2 separate regions of the Homo sapiens genome follow, and region 1 is linked to region 2. Evidence: fine-mapped expression QTL. Tissue or cell type: whole blood. Region 2 holds a variant in brackets; the other region holds the start of a gene. All regions are shown on one strand. Distances are between the middles of the regions.

Evidence for each region. PIP is the estimated chance that this variant, and not a neighbour inherited with it, causes the effect.
Region 1: MEG3 starts here. The variant in region 2 is fine-mapped to the expression of MEG3 in whole blood (TOPMed, PIP above 0.99).

What each region holds. Positions count from the first base shown.
Region 1 is chr14:100,824,790-100,827,544 of GRCh38, reverse strand. MEG3 (maternally expressed 3) reads right to left here and starts at 1,427. Exons shown (of 10, transcript NR_190993.1): 1 at 1,328-1,427.
Region 2 is chr14:100,708,466-100,711,220 of GRCh38, reverse strand. It overlaps LOC105370669 (a long non-coding RNA gene), which reads right to left and starts at 2,154. Exons shown (of 2, transcript XR_944211.1): 1 at 2,084-2,154; 2 at 1,470-1,667. The variant C/G (reference allele first, on the strand shown) is at 1,346.

The DNA of each region.
Region 1 (2,755 bases), 120 kb before region 2:
GAAATCAACTAACGTGCCTCTGTGCGCCTCCACAACACCCGAAGCCACGGCGCAAAGGCCGACCCCGGCCTCTGCGGCCACTCCGCAGTGAATCCGGGGGGTCTCAAAACTGTTCCCTCTTGGGTAAACGAATCCAGGATCCTCCAGTAGATCCCGCGCCCGACCCCCTCCATCAGGAGAACAAAGGCCACCTCCCCTCCCCACCCCGCCCCCCAAAATTCCGCAGTGCCGCCAGCGCCCTCTCGCGGCCAGCCAGGAAACCTTCCAGAAACCTGCCACGTAGCCACCCGCCTGCGCCCCCACCAGGCCCGCCGGCCCAGGGTGGGAGGGGGCGGCCTGGGGGGGCTTGACTCTGACAAAGGAAATGGCAAAAGGCGATTTGACCAAAAGTCCAAGACTGCAACATGTCAGGATTTTCGAGCGACCACCACGCAACGCTCTGAAGACCCCCGCGGCACCCCATCCCCAGCTCCCAGCGTCCAGACCCCAGCAACACACCCCCTTTTCTGCATTTCTCTCCTCCCTCTTCCCAGACCCAAGGACACGGCCTTCTCTCCTCCCCAACCCACCCCCTGCATCTATTCTCCCAGTGCCCCCAATCCCACGACCCCCCTTCGGCAAGGACTGATCCTAGGGGGCTACTGGCAGGTTTGCACTTGGGCGCCATCTCTCTCCACTGTGAAAGTGGCTGATCAGGGCAGAACCAGATGATATCGGGTAGAAATTTTACTCCACATTTTGCCTGGGGTCCACACTGCACTAAACCTGTGTATTTGGATTCGGAAAACCTCGCGAAGAGGAACCTCCACTCCTCCCGCCCACGATCCACCAAAAACCTGGCCAACAGCTGGCGAGGCAAATATGCCCGGGAGACCCTTCTATTCGGGTGCTTCCCCCCCTAATTCATGGGGCACGCAGAAGGCATCGCCGCCATATCTCCCACTATTAACGCGATTCTAGAGGCGGCTTCTAATACAGGAAATCCGGGGTTCGCCCCCCAGTGACTGCCGTATACCCGAATCCAAGAGGAGTTCCATCTGATTCCTCCCGCTCCTCTGAACTGAAGTCCCTACCACCCAGCCCACCCTTAAGGACTGGACCCTCCAGAGAGGAGCCCTGACTTCCCCCCAGGGAAATGTGCCTCAAGATTTTCTTTCTGACAAATTTTGTTGCGGACGCTCGGGGACCAGGCGAAGTGGCCGCCTCCAGCAGCAGGACCCAGGATCAGGCAGGCTCTCGGCATGTCCAGGAGGACAGAGCCCATCCCAGAAGCGGATGCCGTCTTCCTTTTGCACATCCTTTGCGGCAAGGATGGCCAACCACTCACCGGGTGAGGGATCCTCTCGTGGGCGCCCCAGCTCTCCTGAGGAGCCGCCGCCAAGGCCAGCGAGCCAAGGCGCGCTCCCTCTCTGCTCTCCGCCGTCTGCGCTAGGGGCTGGCTGGGTGGGGTTTATATGGAGGCGCAGAAGGGGTGGTCTCTGACGTCAGCGCATTCTGCTGCAATGCGCTCATTTCTCTAAAAGTGATTGGCCGGAAAAATGAGCCCCCCAGATTCTATGACAAATTGCTCTAGCCGCACCCAGATTGCAGCAAAGAAGGGAGGAAAAAATTCTGCCGCAGTGCCCCTGGCCGCCATGACCAACACCCTGTGGTCGCGGGTGCTTTTTCCCTGCGTGAGCCCGGCTCGCCAGGCAGGGTGAATTCAGGCACAATGTGTGGGGGGAATCGCCCCGATGGCTGGCCGTCCTCAGGCGGCCGATGGCCAAGGTGGGGCTGTCGGGGCGCAGATCCCACACCTGGCGGTTTCGGAACATCCATCGGAGGATGCGGGCTTAGCGAAAGAAAATCATGCTTTCTCTTATTGTTCAGGAAAATAAAATGCCCGGGCGACATAACTGGTTCCCAGATGTAAGCCAGAGGCTGTCACCCCCTCCCAGCCCACCCGTGCGTTTCTGACTGGTTCTCTTTGACATGGGAGACAGAGCTCCGCGTCTCCGAGTCAGAAAACCCTGGCTGTGGAGTCCCGGGCTCTGCCGCTTACAACTCATGTTCGCGGAACCCGCTATGCCCCTTCCTCTTCCACTGGGTCCGCTTCCTCCACCTTAACCAGGGGTACCCCCCACCACACACACCAGGGTTGTAATAAGAATCCAGACAGGAGCCGTGCCCTCTAAGGAAAGTACTTTTAGAGGGCGGACTGTGTCCCATGTGGAGATGCCTGAGCTACCCCTCAAAGTTGGGGTGATCCCCACACACATGCCCTTTGAAAGAGCCCCAGCGCCCCGAAAAACAGGCAGCGACACATGTTGCGCCGAGCCCTGCCGCGGCCTCGGCTCCGGAGCTGGCACATGGGAGTTAATCCCTAACAGGTGGGAGCCCTCGGCAGCTCTGCCCGGCTCTGAGTGGCAGAGCGTGCAGGGCCGTCAATCAAATGTCCTCTCGCAAAGGTCAAAATGCTGTTGAAAGGGACCGAGGATCTATCTTAGGGTGACAGGTGGGTGGCAGCCAGGAGGACAAGGATGGAGTGCTCGGTGACAGAAAGCAGGTGAGGATGAGCAAGGGGCCCCAAAGAGGACAGCAGAGAGGCCCCGCCGAGGGCATCAAGTCAGAATCGCTCCCCCGCACTTCTTTGGGGGGTTTAAGCGGCGTCAGAGGGAGCCCCCCATGCCCAACGATCCCACAAGGTGACTGTAAAGCAGACGGGAGATTCCAGGGCTGAAAAGAAGGGAGAAAGGCTATTTCTACGTCCACAGCT
Region 2 (2,755 bases):
GTTTGCCAAATGCAGGGGAGGGGGAGGCCTTCCCGGCAGTAGGACAAGCTTGAGCCAGGGAAGGTTAGGGCGCCAGTGTGCCTGGCTATTCTGGGAGACGAGTCCAAGGCCCGGCAGAGTGAGGGGAGCAGCTGTCCCTGAGGAGGCCGAAGGTCGGCAGGGCTGCCCAGCTGGGGTCCTGAATGCCAGGCCGCTGGGCAATGTCTTTGGGGAGCCTCAGACAGGCTCTGAGAAGACGAAAGACAAGGTCAGAGCTTTAAAAAGCTGCAGTGCGGTCACTCTGGCGGCCACGACAGAAGCAAGAACACAAGACAGTGACGACCACACAGAGGTCATGGCTAGGCCAAGTGGAGCAGCAAGGAAGGCAGAAATGGGGGGCTGGGGACGTGGAGGAGGGGCAGGAGGAAGAAAGCCATGAGGAGAAGCCAGGAGGAGAAGCTCCCCAAAGCCTCACTCCCCTAGGCTCTTGTATAAAACAGGGAAAATTACGCTTGGAATATCTCCTACATCGTGAGGTTAACAAAAAGGAGTTGCAGAACAGTGTGTGTAAAACGAACTCATGTATGTAAAGTGAAAAAGAATATATACAAGATCCCCTTTCCTATTGATCTGTTTGCACATGCCTAGACGCTTCCGGGGATCACAGGAGAAACTGACTGGCGCTGGGCTTTGGGAGTGGCTGGGGAACCCCAACGGGAGGACTACCTGCTTTGCACTTCAAAAGAGAGGGCCATCTATTTTATAATTGAAACCACTTTTAACATAAAAAGAAACTGGCGGGGGCGCAGCGGTTCACGCATGTAATCCCAGCACTTTGGGAGGCCGAGGCAGGTGGATCCCCTGAGGTCAGGAGTTTGAGACCAGCCTGGCCAACATGAGGAAACCCCGTCTCTACTAAAAACCCAAAAATTATCCACACATGGTGGCCGGCACCTGTAATCCCAGCTACTTGGGATATTGAGGCAGGAGAATCGCTTGAACCCGGGAGGCGGAGGTTGCAGTGAGTTAAGATTGCACCACTGCACTCCAACCTGGGTGAAAGAGAGAGACTCCATCTCAAAAATAAATAAATTAATTAATTAAAATAAAATAAAATAAATTATAAAACGAACCGAAACAGGCAAACGGTTAGAGAAGGCCAGCATTTGTCTCAGGGGAAAGCACAGCCAGAGGGGATCGGGGAGGCTTCGCGGGGCTGGAAGGTTCCAGAAGGCTTGACTTTCCCCACCTGGTGGTCTACCCGGCCCGCAGTCCCAGCCCCATGTCCCCCCCACCCAGGGGCAGGACTCCCGCCCTGCGCGGCCCCAGCTCCCGCTCTCCGTGGCGAGCCCGCCGCGCCCCCTGC[C/G]GGCGCGCGTTGGGGAGGAGGGGCGGGACGCAGAGGCTGCGGCTGGGCTCCCGGGCAGGCGCCGGGCTTTCTCCCTGGGTTGTGTATGTTTCTTAAAAGAATGATACGTGTGGCAAAAAAAAGATAAGAGGGGAGCCATTATTAATGAGAACAGGTGAGGGGAGGATATTCATGATCGTTTCGAGCCTAATGAAGCCTGCCGAAGGTTCCCTCCGGAATGATGGATTCCGCGGGGCCGGGGCGCTCCCATCACTCTTGTCCTCGGAGCCGACTGTTCTCCCGGCTGCCTCCGCACAGCCCGCTCCGGAGGACAGGAGCGAGGCTGATAACAAATTTTGGGAACATAGAATTTCACACCTCATCGCACAGGCATTAAGACGACAATACAGCGGATGACTTCCTCCCGCTGGCCCGCCCCCTCAGCAAGGAAGGCCAGGCCAGGGGAGGCCTGGGGGCCGGCGGGGCCCCAGGGAGGAGGGTTGGGCTGGGGGGGCGCCCAGGGCTCGCAGAGCCCCTCAATTGTCCTCAGGCCCGGCAAGTGGAGGCGGGAGCGGTGACAGGGACAACGGGGATCTCTGTCCCACCCATCACTGGGATCGCAATTGCGTGGAGAGGGAAGGCCCCAGAGCCCACGGAGCCGCTCTCCCCGTCCAGGCCCCCGTGAGGCCCACTGCAGCCTAGCTCCTGCTCCTGACGTCGGTTCCCAGCAAGTTCAGCCAGGTGGCTGGCTGTTCTCACCCCTCCCGGGAGCTGCACAGACAGCTGCGTTAGACAGAACGCAGGCCACAGGGCCGGGCAGTGAAACTTCCCATCACCCGAGGCCGAGCCGGCCAAACGGCTCCCCTGGCGTCATAACGGCCAAGGCCGGGCCACCCTGGCTGGAGGGCGCACGGGAGGGGCGCAACGTGACGTTTGGGAGTACAGAGCCAGGGAGAGGGGGCCAAGTCAGGGGCCGCCGCACAGTATAGGACGTGAGGAAGGAGGAGCCCGCTGCCCCGCTCCCCTACCTCAGCGTCGGGTCTACCCTGCCCACCTTCACCATGTCACAGCAAGATGCGCCCCCTTTGGCCCAGCCCCCAGGTGACACACGGCCCGGAACTTTGACCCGCCTTGTGCAAATGTGAGCCTATTACCAGCACTGCCCTTGTTCCCAACATTTGGGGCACAGAGGGGTCCTTTTCTGTCCCCAGAGCCATCTTGAGTAGAATGAGGAGAAGAGGCGTTTCCAGGCCCTCCTGGCCCAGTTGCTCGCTGGCCCTCAGCTGCCAGGAAGGCGGACATTTGAGAAGGAGCAGGGAGGGTGTGGGGCAGGAGAGGGGTGGTGTCCCAGCCAAGGGCAGCAGGAGCCACCCAGAGGCCTTGGCCGGTAACTGACGCCAGCCCTCACCTGGAGGGCCAGGTGAGGCCAAC